4 separate regions of the Homo sapiens genome follow, and all the other regions are reported to be linked to region 1. The links are microRNA targets in miRTarBase. Many come from high-throughput screens and were not tested one by one. Region 1 holds a microRNA gene; each other region holds the end of a gene's coding sequence. Distances are between the middles of the regions.

Evidence for each region. The annotated mature microRNA hsa-miR-4793-3p reads UCUGCACUGUGAGUUGGCUGGCU and lies in region 1 at 922-944, opposite strand. An mRNA with a match to its seed (bases 2 to 7 or 8) in the 3' UTR can be bound and repressed. Matches are read on the target gene's strand: a 7mer-m8 pairs with bases 2 to 8, a 7mer-A1 pairs with bases 2 to 7 and ends in A, and an 8mer does both.
Region 2: miRTarBase lists FOXL2NB as a target of hsa-miR-4793-3p. Seed matches in the 3' UTR shown: 7mer-A1 at 2,591-2,597, 7mer-A1 at 2,543-2,549, 7mer-m8 at 868-874 and 7mer-m8 at 356-362.
Region 3: the mRNA of PPM1K is a reported target of hsa-miR-4793-3p. Seed matches in the 3' UTR shown: 7mer-m8 at 187-193.
Region 4: the mRNA of RSRC1 is a reported target of hsa-miR-4793-3p. Seed matches in the 3' UTR shown: 7mer-m8 at 1,762-1,768.

What each region holds. Positions count from the first base shown.
Region 1 is chr3:48,643,280-48,646,368 of GRCh38, forward strand. It overlaps MIR4793 (microRNA 4793), which reads right to left and starts at 1,001; the gene lies at 915-1,001. It overlaps CELSR3 (cadherin EGF LAG seven-pass G-type receptor 3), which reads right to left. Exons shown (of 35, transcript NM_001407.3): 22 at 2,811-2,978; 23 at 2,463-2,589; 24 at 2,164-2,370; 25 at 1,756-1,930; 26 at 1,437-1,549; 27 at 937-1,016; 28 at 275-398.
Region 2 is chr3:138,950,343-138,953,431 of GRCh38, reverse strand. FOXL2NB (FOXL2 neighbor) reads right to left here. Exons shown (of 3, transcript NM_001040061.3): 3 at 1-3,089. The coding sequence ends at 2,860. Among named protein-coding and RNA genes, the nearest start is that of FOXL2NB, 4.7 kb to the right of the region's middle.
Region 3 is chr4:88,259,668-88,262,756 of GRCh38, forward strand. It overlaps PPM1K (protein phosphatase, Mg2+/Mn2+ dependent 1K), which reads right to left. Exons shown (of 7, transcript NM_152542.5): 7 at 1-3,059. The coding sequence ends at 2,928. Among named protein-coding and RNA genes, the nearest start is that of PPM1K, 23 kb to the right of the region's middle.
Region 4 is chr3:158,543,931-158,547,019 of GRCh38, reverse strand. RSRC1 (arginine and serine rich coiled-coil 1) reads right to left here. Exons shown (of 10, transcript NM_001271838.2): 10 at 1,290-2,837. The coding sequence ends at 2,745. MLF1-DT (MLF1 divergent transcript) reads left to right here. Exons shown (of 5, transcript NR_104147.1): 5 at 1,443-1,800. Among named protein-coding and RNA genes, the nearest start is that of UC.134, 19 kb to the right of the region's middle.

The sequences.
Region 1 (3,089 bases):
GGTCGGTGTGGATCAGCAAGGGGTCGGGAGCCTTGGTGTTGGTGAAGGTCGATCCAAGATCAGCACTCAGTCTGGGATCAGTGCCTAAGTTAGAGTCAGCTCCAGGCCTGGGGGCAGCAGCTAGGGCCAGTGTCTGGTCTGGGGTAGTACCCAGCCTGGCAAAGTTATCCAGTAAGAGTCAGCTCCAGGCCTAGGGTCAACGTCTGCCTAGGGATGGCCCCAGCCTACTGAAGGCCCACCTGGTTCTGGGGCAAGGGAGGGGCACCAGAGTCACCTGGAGGCCGCAGAGTCCAGCATGGAGGTAGTGGAAGGCTAGGATGCTGTGGTTGACTGCCAGGAGCCCAAAGAGCCAGGAGGCACTGACCAGCAGAAGCAGCAGGAAGGAGCTGCGAAGGGTCCTGCTGTGGGGACATGGGAAGACACAGGAGGACATGCAAGGCTCATGTAGGACTCATGCAGGGAACACGGGAGGACACACAGGGGCCACACACGAAACGTGAAAAAAAGGAACTCACACGGGAACATGGAGGTCTCTGGAGGACACTGGGGGAGATGGGAGGTCCCACAAAGAAACAGGAGAGCAGTCAAAGAGCCATGAGGACACGTGGGGAAAACACAGGGGTATGGGAGCCACAAGGGAGGGCACGGAAGACAGGTGGGAACACACAGGGCAGGGGGCAAAGTGAGCCACCCAGGCCATGGGAGACTCTGGGGGGACCCAGAGGACAAGGAGAGACAGCAGGGCAGAAGCACATGTGGGGCTACAGTATAGCGAGGGCGCCAGAGAGGGACCACAGGTCAGGGCAGGTGTGACTTCATTCCTTCATCTAGAACTTGGAGCCCAACCTGCACCAGGGAAGATCTGGGGGCCCCAGACCCCACCCAGGAGGGACCTGCCATCCTGAGAAGCCCCCTTCCTCCAGCCAGCCAACTCACAGTGCAGAGGTCTTCTTGGCCTCCCTCTGCCCTGTGGAGCAGGATGTGCGGGCAGCGAGGAGAAACATGGTCCCGTTCATCTGGACCCACGGCCAGACATGTGGGGCCGGGCAGGGCAGAGAGAGAGAGAGAGAGAGAGGCAATGAGAGACAGAGAGAGACTAAGATTCACGGAGAGAGGCAGAACCAGTGAGAAATTCACACATATACACACACACCAAAGGAGCTTAGCATCACAGAAAAAGAAATTGGGAACCAGAGAGGGACTGAGAGAGAGAAGCAGAGACAGAGGCAGGGACAGGCAACTGAATCTCTGACCCCGCGCCCCCATCTCCATGCCAGTTGAATGGGGGTGGCTACTGACCAGAGGACAGAAAAAATGAAGGCCGAGCCCAGGAAGCCTGCAGAATGCCACCTGACCGCCCTCAGCTGAGTCCACTGCACCTCCTCCCCCAATGAGGGAGGGAAGTACAGAGGGGGCACCAAGTCCAGGGCACTCACCACTATGACCAGGACAACAGGGCCAGCAAAGCTCCAGATGAGGGGCTCGTGGACTGAGATCCAGCAGAAGTCAGGGTTCCCATAGCCCTCAGGGTCCAGGCCCACAGCAAGGCCTTGGGAAGAGAAAGGGTAGGACTGAGGGTGTGTGTTCCAGAGCTGCTGACCAGCCCATGTATGGGAGAAAGCATGGGTGAGGGCAGAGCAGCAACCCCATGAATAGATGGCTTGGGGTTTGAGGTTGGGGGTCATGAGCAGGAGTGGGGACAGGGTCAGGGGTCAGGCCATGTGATGGTTGGAGGTTGGGGGTCACAGCCCTCACCCAGCAGCACAGCAGGGACGCCCCAGCCCAGGGCATGGTAGAAGCGCATGGCGCCGCGGTCCACGTTGCGTGGCTCAACCTGCATGCGGTAGAGGTGCAGCCCCTGCACGAAGAGCCACGCGAAGGTGCTGAGGAAGAAGTAGTGCAGGAGGATGGCGACTGCAGTGCACACCAGCTGAGGGCAGGGGGGCGTGTCAGGACCTCTCCTGCCTCACCCACCTCTGACCCCTACCCCAGGCATCTGCTTCCCACCTCTCACCCCTAAACCACAATATCTTACCCCAGCATCCTGCTGAAAACCCTGGCCCCAACCTGAGCATCCCTGACCTCTGACCCTGAGTTTTGGCCCCAGGCCTCCTGGGCCAGTAGGGTCATCAGGACACAAGTTCCCTGGCCCTGATCCTGCACCTGATTGTGGGTCCTGTGAATCCCCAGCAGGAAGAGGAGCTCTGCCACCCCCAGGGCGGCTGCCACATTGGCATGGATCCCACGCACATTGGACTTGAGGCTGCGCAGGCTCAGCAGGATGGCTGCAGTCAGCACCAGCGCAGCCACAGACACAGCCACGACCACGTGGGTGAACACAGCCAGCAGCTCCAGGTCGCCCTCCAGCCTCTACAGAGACAGGGATGGTTGATGGGTTGTTGGGCAGAATCCCCGTGTCCCTTTGACCCCCCACTTCCTTGGGACACTGAACACAGCCCCACCTCACGGGGAGAGGCATCCATGAGGACCCCAAAGGTCCCTGTCCGGCTGCAGCGACACCGTGCGTGGGACCCATTCCTGTGCACCAGCTCGCAGTCCCGTGCTGTCCACACACCATGCTGCTCCGCCCTGCAGCCACAGGGCAGTTAGACACAACTGTGACCCAGTGTCAGGCAGGGGTTTGTGAGAGATCATGGGAAGGGCTGAGGGTGCCTGGAGTTGGGGTACAGCATTCCTCATGGTCCGGGTTGCACAACAGCACTAGTGGGGGCCCCAGGGGAAGGCTGGGACTATTAGTTGGCCTCCCAAGGGCTAACGGGACCAAGGGTTTCCAGAATGGGGGTCCTCACAGGCCAGGTGGGTCCCACTGCACACAGATCGCCTTGCTCCGATTCGCTGTCTGTAGCAGGCGAAACTCTAGGCTGATGGGGGACTCCAGGATTCCCCTTAGGAAGTTGCGTCCGTGGAACACAGCCACGCTGACCACCGGGGAGTTCATGACGGGGTTCTGAGGAAGCCTGGGGAGACACCCATCTGGGCTTACGCACTGCTGACCTCCCCATGCTCAGCCTGCTTGCCTCACCCCGTCTTCATGCCACTCGCCAGGGCTGACCCAGGGTCTGGGATGT
Region 2 (3,089 bases), 90 Mb from region 1:
GCTGGAGACCATTATACTAAGTGAAGTAACTCAAGTATGGAAAACCAAATATCCTGTGTTTTCATTTATAAGTGGGAGCTAAGCTATGAAGATGCAAAGGCATAAGAATGACATAATGGACCAGGCGCAGTGGCGCACGCCTGTAATCCCAACACTTTGGGAGGCCAAAATAGGCAGATCACTTGAGGTTAGGAGTTCAAGACTAGCCTGGCCAACATGGTGAAACCCCATCTCTACAAAAAATACAAAAATTAGCTGGGCATGGTGGTGCATGCCTGTAGTCCCAGCTACACAGGAGGTTCAGGCAGGAGAATCACTTGAACTCAGGAGGCTGCAGTAAGCCAAGTTCATGCCACTGCACTCCAGCCTGGGCAACAGAGTGAGACTCTGTCTCAAAAAGAAGAAAAAAAGAATTATATAATGGGGACTCGGGGGGGGAAGCGTAGGAGGGGGATGAGGGATAAAAGATTACACACTGGGTACCGTGTACAATGCTCGGGTGACAAGTGCACCAAAATCTCAGAAATTACCATTAAAGAACTTATCCATGTAAGCAAAAACCACCTGTTCCCCCAAAACTGTTTAAATAAAAAATAAAAAACTGACTGGGCATGGTGGCTCACACCTGTAATCCCAACACTTTGGGAAGTTGAAGCAGGCAAATCACCCTGAGCTCAGGAGCTCAAGACCAGTTGGGCCCACATGGTAAAACCCTGTCTCTACCAAAAATACCAAAAAAAAAAAAAAAAAATTAGCTGAGTGTGTTGGCTCACACCCATAGTCCCAGCTACTTGGGAGGCTGAGGCTGAGATGGGAGGATCACTTGAGCCTGGGAGGTGGAGACTGCGGTAAGCCAAGATTGCACCACTGCACTCCAGCTTGGGCAACAGAGTGAGACCCTGTCTCAAAAAAAAAAAAAGTGTTTCATAAAGTTATAGTGCACACATACACACACACATACACACACACACACACACACACCCTATCTTGGCATGAGGAAAATCTCCAAAGGTAGAACAGTAATACAAAACTCAGCCCTTCTCCCTCCCTTCCTCTGGACTTTGTGCCAGCTAGGCATCTAAAACTGCCTTCCTCCATGGCAGTTGCCTATCATCTTTAGAAAGTGCCCGCTTTGTGGGAGAAAATTGAGCCAGGAATGAGGACCAAGGGGGAAGGGCTCTCTCTGGCATCCCCTCATGGGTTAGCGTGCGGGTGGAGACTGCAGGCCTTACCTTGCAAGCCAGCTGCCCTGAATGCAGAGACTTCTCTGTTTCCAGTAAAGTCTAGTTTGAATGTTTCAGACAGGTCCTCACCATGACTGGGAACTAGGGAGGTGTCCTTGCCCTTGCCTAAGGTTCAGCACCATGGCCATGCAGCTATAATAACCCCAAATGGCAAAGAACTCTCAGATCCTGAGCTGGCTGTCAATGATCAAACCGCTTTTCCTCAGCTACAGTCCCTTTCTTGGAAATTCTAACTTCATTATAACTTCATTATAAGGAAAGTGGCATTTCCCAATTCTGTCCAGCAGAACCATTTTCTAATTCTATTAAAAGGCATTAAGCCCATCCTGGTGGGGAGCACTGAGTGAGAAGTGGAGGGCAGAGTCTCTGCCCATCAGCGCTTACAGTCTGGGTGTGGAGAAAGGCAACAAGGCAACTTTTAAGAACACATCATGTTCCCCAGCAAGCCTGAGGCCTACTGGCAAGGCACTCACTGTTCAGAGCTGAACAAAATGGCTTTGGGCCATAGATGTCATGAGGGATATCAGAGGAAACTTGTCAGCAGCTCCCACCACCCTAGAATCCGCCTCTGAGAGCATCCCACGGGTCTTTGGAGGGAAGAGGGCCTCACTTGGCCCAGGACCCAGACCCTTCTGCCTTTTTCCCAGTTGGCCTCCACCATGAAAAAGGCCGACAACTGCCCTGCATTCTGCCTGATTGACGATGGGGCACATACTCCTTGGGACAAAATGGTGTTGGAGGACTCATACCCCAACATCAGCAAGGTAAAGAGGAGCCCAGAGCTCTGGTCTACTGCCTCTCAAGCCCTTCCTGGGGGAGAAAGAGGGGAGCTCAGTGAGACACTTAACAACAGGAAACAGCTCTCATGTGTGAGTTCTTCCCAGAGTAGGAGGTCGCTTCTCTTTCCTCTTCCTCAATATCTCTCTCTCTCTCTCCACTCCCCTATTCTCTCCCAAGCACATATGTGAGTAACTGACTTTGCTAATCCCAACCAGGCAGACTAATACCCACTGGCTTCAGACCTGGTGCTATGTGGGTGTCTGCTGCTGCACCTTGTTGGTCTGAGCAGCAAACTCAGCAGAGTTTCGAGACAGAGATAAAGCCTGTGTGAGTGGCCTGTGCATGTTAAAGTGTATCTGGAACGTGCTCAGTACCTGAGCTTCTCTGTGGTCTGTGCGGCAGTCCCATCATGAAAACACCCAGGTGGCAGCCCAGTCACCCGAATCACAGGCCAAGGACATCAGAGAATCAACAGGCTTCTCGGAGTCAGGCTTGTAAACCTGGAGCCCATTGGTCCTTCTGCACCGTGAGATGCGAAAGTGAGCAGCGTGTGAAAAGCCTTAGGGTCTGCACATTGGCTTGACATGTTTTCCACCAACATGTGCAAAATCTGAATTAGTACGTGTAGCTGGTGAGTGTGAGAGAAGTAGGAGGGGAGGGAGAACTAGAGGGGATTTGGAGTTGACAGAGGGAGAAGGAGAGAGAAGTGGATGGAGTAACGTGACCTGAGTGGAGGGACACCGAGTCCCTGAGGTGTGGGTGCAAAGGGCCCTGTGAGGGGCCGGGAGGGAGTGAGTGCTGACAGTTGTTGAGGCGTGGAGTGTATGGGGATGTACTAATAGACACAGTGAAGCTTCCCTTTGCTAGCCAAGCACCGCAGAGGCCATCCCTCCAAGCAGAGGGTTGCAGCAAGCTCTATTCTCTCCCGCTCAGGAGCGGGAAGCCGCCGGGTGTTTCGGGGTCCCGCTAGGAAAGGGGACAGCGGAACCTGGTTCAGGCAGCCGGCGGCGGCGCGGGACGAGCTGAGTGGTTCTAGCGAAGCGCTGCCTGCCTCAGAGCAGCCGC
Region 3 (3,089 bases), not on the chromosome of region 1:
CATTTTAATATTGTGGCATGAAAAATACAAACACCAATACAGTATGTTTTATGCTTACTCAAAGTTAACTGGCTCAGAGTTTTAAAAGCTTTCCCGGATAAAGCAGAGTCAAGTCTACCCTATATCCCCATCCTATAAATTCCTCTTTGTCGAACCTGGCAATCTCAGTGAGCTATGATTGCACCACTGCACTTCAGCCTGGACAACAAAGTGAGACTCTGTAACTATAAAAAACAAAAACAGACAAACTTGGCTATCTACCTCAATCCATCAATCACCCTCATGCCTTTGAACTTGACAACATCACTCCTCATCTTAGTTTTTAAAGTAAAAGATAGGAATAGTAATGTAAAGCATTCAAAACAAAAATGAAACCTGCATATTTGTTTATTTATTTATCTGAGATGGAGTTTTTGCTCTGCTGTCCAGGCTGGAGTGCAATGGCGCGATCTCGACTCACTGCAACCTCCGCCTCCCAGGTTCAAGCAATTCTCCTTCCTCAGCCTCCCCAGTAGCTGGGATTACAGGCACCCACCACCACGCCTGGCTAATTTTTGCATTTTTTGGTCAAGATGAGGTTTCACCATGTTGGCCAGGCTGGTCTCTAACTCTTGACCTCAGGTGATCCACCTGCCTTGGCCTCCCAAAGTGCTAGGATTACAGGCTTGAGCCACCGCGCCTGGCTGAAACCTGCATCTTCAGAATGTCATTTTTGTGCGTTAGTTTTCCTTTGCCTGTTGGTTTGGAAATTCTCCATGTTCCTAAAGGTAGCTTCCACATTTCTGTTCCAAGAACTGATTAGAAAAAGCAAGATGGTTTCCCGCTTTAGTTGCCTCCCTTTGGTTCCTCACCTCTCAGACAACAAACAGAATGTTAACAGTCTTTCCTGTGATGTTTTTCCTTCTTTCACCTAACTTCCCTTGAAAAAAAAAATCAAAATATTTATTTAGCACTTTTTTCAAAGGGCAATTCCTGATTAATATAGGCAGAAAAACTCAAGATTTATCTTCTTCCATTTCCAAAAAGGTAAGAAGATGTAAATATTTATATTGGGCCCTCTCCCTCCTCATACATTTTTACCCAAAGCTTAAAGAAAAAAAAAAAAGTCAACTCAAAACACAGTTGAAGGTATATACTACATCAACTTTTTCTTTTGTTTCTGCCACAGAATTCCATGTCATTCTTAAGATTCAGTATTTTTCTCACATCCTATTACTTTATATACAAATTGCCATATAGCAATTTTTAACCTATTTCCTCATCTGCTGATAATCACTGGGTCTCCACTATAAGAAAATTGCCCCTAGTTTGTCAAGAGTCCTTAAAAATAACGTATCAATAATTTAAAACTGGTGAAAGAGCTATGCAAGATTGTTCCCTTTAATTTTATATTACTCTAAAATATACATATGTACACATACTCACACATATAACAAATTTACATAGTTTGCAGAAATAAACTACGGAAATAATTCCAAATACACATTTAGAAATTCACATTTTAACAGCAAACTTACATGCAGATAAAGAGAAGTATAGTTTTATACTTCCTAAGTTACACAGCAAGCTGAAATGGAGAATGTTTTAATGGTCATTTTAGATTTATTCTTTCTCCTAAGTCTTAGAAAATGAGCAAAAAGGAGACATAAAACTCAAGCTATGTCTATAGCAGTATCAGTCAATGTGGTATTATTTTTATTAACAAATTATTCAATTGCTTACTCTATACAAAAAGTGATATACACATACTATAATACTATATGCAAAACACAAAATAGCGTTAGAGATAACAAATGAGAACTTCATACAAAATACTTGATTCCATCAGTATTTAACTTTTGACCGGAAGACTCAGCCTGTGCATTCTTTTCTGATATTAAGGAATAGTCACATTTTTACAGTATTCTTAACTACAGAAAAATAGGAATAAATGGAGGGGAGGGCTGATGAGACAGCTGAAATACACATTTATAAATATGTATACAATTTAGTAATGTCACATCATCTGAATTAATTTCTTTTCTTTCTTTTTTTTTTTTTTTTTGAGATGGAGTTTTTCGCTCTTGCTGCCCAGGCTGGAGTGCAATGGCATGATCTCAGCTCACTGCAACCCCCATCTCCTGGGTTCAAGTGATTCCTCTTTCCTCAGCCTCCCGAGTAGCTGGGATTACAGGTGTCTGCCACCACGCCCAGCCAATTTTTTTTTTTTTTTTTTTTTTTTTTTTGGATTTTTACTAGAGACAGGGTTTCACCATGTTGGCCAGGCTGGTCTTGAATTCCTGACCTCAGATGATCTACCCACCTTGGCCTCTCAAAGTGCTGGGATTACAGGCATGAGCCACTGTGCCTGGCCAAATTAATTTCTTTTGCATGGTTGCTTTCACCAGTAAGTGGTCCAGAATACAAAATATGGTAACAGAGAACTGTTTTCATACTTATTCCTTGGTACAGTTATTAAAAATAAAAACTCGCATTTTAGGATTAGGGAAGTCTGGAAAAAAATTTTTTTAAACTTGGAGATCACATATTGAATAGCTGTCAAAATTCAAACTGACTAGTTTTGAAGAACTTCAAAAACGTGTTCAAATGAATAAAGAACAAAAATGATCAAAAGAAACCCATAGCTGCCTAAGAGTCTTAAAAATTATTAATGTGACACTCTCATCTCTCATCAAGTGTATCCAAACCACTTCTCATTTGCTCTTTCCATTTAAAGACTCACAGTAGCTTCACTACACATATATTTATACTGAACATGTACAGCGGAACATAAATATGATGAGCATTTATGAAAAAACTACTATCTAAGTGGTTTACACTGACTTGTGCGCTGATCTAGTGAGTTAGGAGACCTTTTTGATCTTATCAGTTTCTTGACATGCTCAGTGAAAAACTGTTGCACAGAAACTCTAAGTCCCAGCTGGTAATCAGGCCCATCGTCCACTGGAGGCAAAGCTTCTGCTGAATGAGAAGTTGATTTCAGAGTTCTTATATTTTCCCCAGGCACCAAAAGGCACTACTACTGCAGTACTGTTATCCTCAGTACCGTACTGTATTGCCTGCAAGGTTTGGCAGGAAGAAAGAGAAAA
Region 4 (3,089 bases), 110 Mb from region 1:
AATAGCAGAAGTTTCTATGAAGGGCTTTCTTTTATGTCATTTTACTGAAAAATCAAAGTAGGCAGGTCTGCAATTAGTATCCTCATTTCACATGTTAGGATGCTGAAGCAAAGGAGGTGAATGATTCAAAGTATTCTGTGCTCATATCTTTAGCTCTTTGACTCCTCATAACTAGAGAGTGCCAGGAAAAATGCTCTTATTTCATTTTCCTTGAGAATATACTTACTTGTCAGAAATGAAAACTCAACCTGTATTATCAGTACCCATCATTTTGTAAGAAATCAATGTTTCGTAAAACACTTAAGGTCTCATGTATGTCCAAATTATTATCATTAATCAAGTGACATGAAAGGAATTATTCTGTTTTATAGACTCACCATATAAGGATATTAAAGAAGGCTAGCTTGAATTAGGCAATATGTTTGATCATGTTCTATGCAGTCCTTTTTATTAAATTTGATTTGGCTTGTGTGGTAATATTGTGGTCTTTGATAGGAATGCAGGTAAACGAAGTTAATAATATATAAAAATGAATCATGTTGAAAACTAGGGAGGAAGGAAGTAGTTACCGAATTCCTGTAGGGACCATAGTTTAGTTCATTAAAAAAATTTGATTTTCGGCCAGGCATGGTGGCTCATGCCTGTAATCCCAGCACTTTGGGAGGCCGAGGTGGGTGGATCATGAGGTCAAGAGATCGAGACCATCCGGGCTAACACGGTGAAACCCCGTCTCTACTAAAAATACACACACAAAAAATTAGCTGGGCATGGTGGCAGGCGCCTGTAGTCCCAGCTACTCAGGAGGCTGAGGCAGGAGAATGGCATGAACCTGGGAGGCGGAGCTTGCAGTGAGCCGAGATCGCACCAATGCACTCCAGCCTGGATGACAGAGTAAGACTCTGTCTCAAACCACCGCCCTCCCCCCCAAAAAAAACCCCAAAAAACAATTCTGTCACAGTTCAAGCTTCTGTATTTGGGGTACTTGCCACAGAGGAACACTGGTATTAAATATAATTGAAGTAGACCAGATTTTCACTGTTTTATAGATAAGGAAGATCAGGGATATTGAGAAAACTGCCTAGCCCAGGTCCTCTGGAGAATCATTAGTGGCCCAAATGATAACCCATATTCTTGCCCAGACCACTAACATATACTTTCCAATAGGGTGATAGTACTTCTATAGTTTATAAGTTATACAAAGTATGAAATAAAAATATTTCATAAACTGTAACCCCTTTTTAAGTCACTAAAATTGTATACATCTATGTTAAAAACCACACAAATCTCGGTTCATTTGGGGCACTTTTATTTACAGCCAAGGAAAAAAGAAAACTAGCATCTATTTAGAATGGGAAAGCATGTTTGTATGAAAACAAATATTTCATCATCACTTATTTTCTATACTGTTTGCAACTAAGTTTTACATTTTTCATTTTCAACAGAGATTTGAATTTTAATGTCCCAGAAATATAAAGAAGATGGCATTAAAATGTCCTATATGTTGGCAGTCCTACCCTGAAGACTTTTTTTGCTTATCTTTTGTTCTGAGCTACAGTCTTCGCAGAGACTAAATTAGTGACTGGACAACAGAAGAAAATAGACCATCCTGGCTAAAATGGTGAAACCCCATCTCTACTAAAAACACAAAAAATTAGCTGGGCATGTTAGCGGGTGCCTGTAGTCCCAGCTACTCGGGAGGCTGAGGCAAGAAAATGGCGTGAACCTGGGAGGCGGAGCTTGCAGTGAGCTGAGATCGCGCCACTGCACTCCAGCATGGGGGATAGAGCGAGACTCCGTCTCAAAAAAAAAAAAAAAAAAAAAAAAAAGAAAATAGAAACGGGAAATATTCATGTCAGCTGTTAAAAACCAGTTTTGTAAAGCAAGGCCTAAAAGTCCTATCTCTGGCATGTTTAGTATGGAACGTATAGTTGATTGTCATTCAGCTACTAGAGAAAGGTATTCTACAATGGCAGATAGCCTTATCAAAACAATTAGCCGGCTTTCTCCACAGGGAATAGCAGTGGGGTAAGTAAGACTGAAGTGAGAGCTCTTATCAGTTTTCTCAGAAATGATTTCTCCATCATAGGTATTTGGCCAACTGGTTAGGTCTAGCATGAACATGTGATTTCTAAAACAATGAGCTGAGATCTGCTAACATGTTGTAAAGGAGCATCTAGTAGAAGCTGATCTCTAAGCAAAATCACCAATTTATTTAAGTTTCAAAAATTTTTTTTCCATAAATATGTTCTTTAACATGCACATTCTGCTTACATTGTTTAGGGTGCTTTTTATTGTGCCTAAAAATTTGCAATATGGTGAAATAAAATATTTAAAAATGGTTGAATACCATACGGAAGATGAAATCTCATATTTATAGCATGTAATTCAATTCTCATGTATGCATAATTAATCAAAATTGTGTCTTTAAATGACATCTTGACATTTTTTGAATTGCACTAAGAAACACTAGTGTCTACCATTCATTTTAACAGACTTATTTATGTTTAGCTTTATTAACAGTATAACATTTTCATGCAATCTTAAATTTTGTTTTAATTTTTACAATGTTTGATTTAATTCAAATTAACAAATATTCAAGCCTACATGAGAGACAAATGAAATGAGACTACCTTTATATATAATCAGCAAAATTCTTTTTAAGAGTAAAAAGTTAATATTGGGATTTAAAAACCTAAATTTCCAATGTTACTGCTGACAATCCAATCCAACTATATGTATATTACTTAGGCCACAGGACTGCCCATTAGTCTTTCTTGTCGGAGAGCAATTAATCTCTTGAACCATTTTTCCTCAGCATCAGCTTTCTCGATAAATAACTGAAATAAGAAAAGAAAAAGAAAAAATGTTACTGTCTCCCAATAACTTGAATTTGACCTAAAATGACAGAACTCACCTTTGTAGAATATATCTCTCAACACAAGATTTGGATACTGTTTAACTCTTGATGACCTCTTAATTGATGACTATCTATTTGGAATTAGTAATGCTCAGAAATTCTTGGAGTAAAAGAACTACTAGTATCAACATCATTGCTTAACAATTTTGTACCTTATATTTGTGAAGTTTAT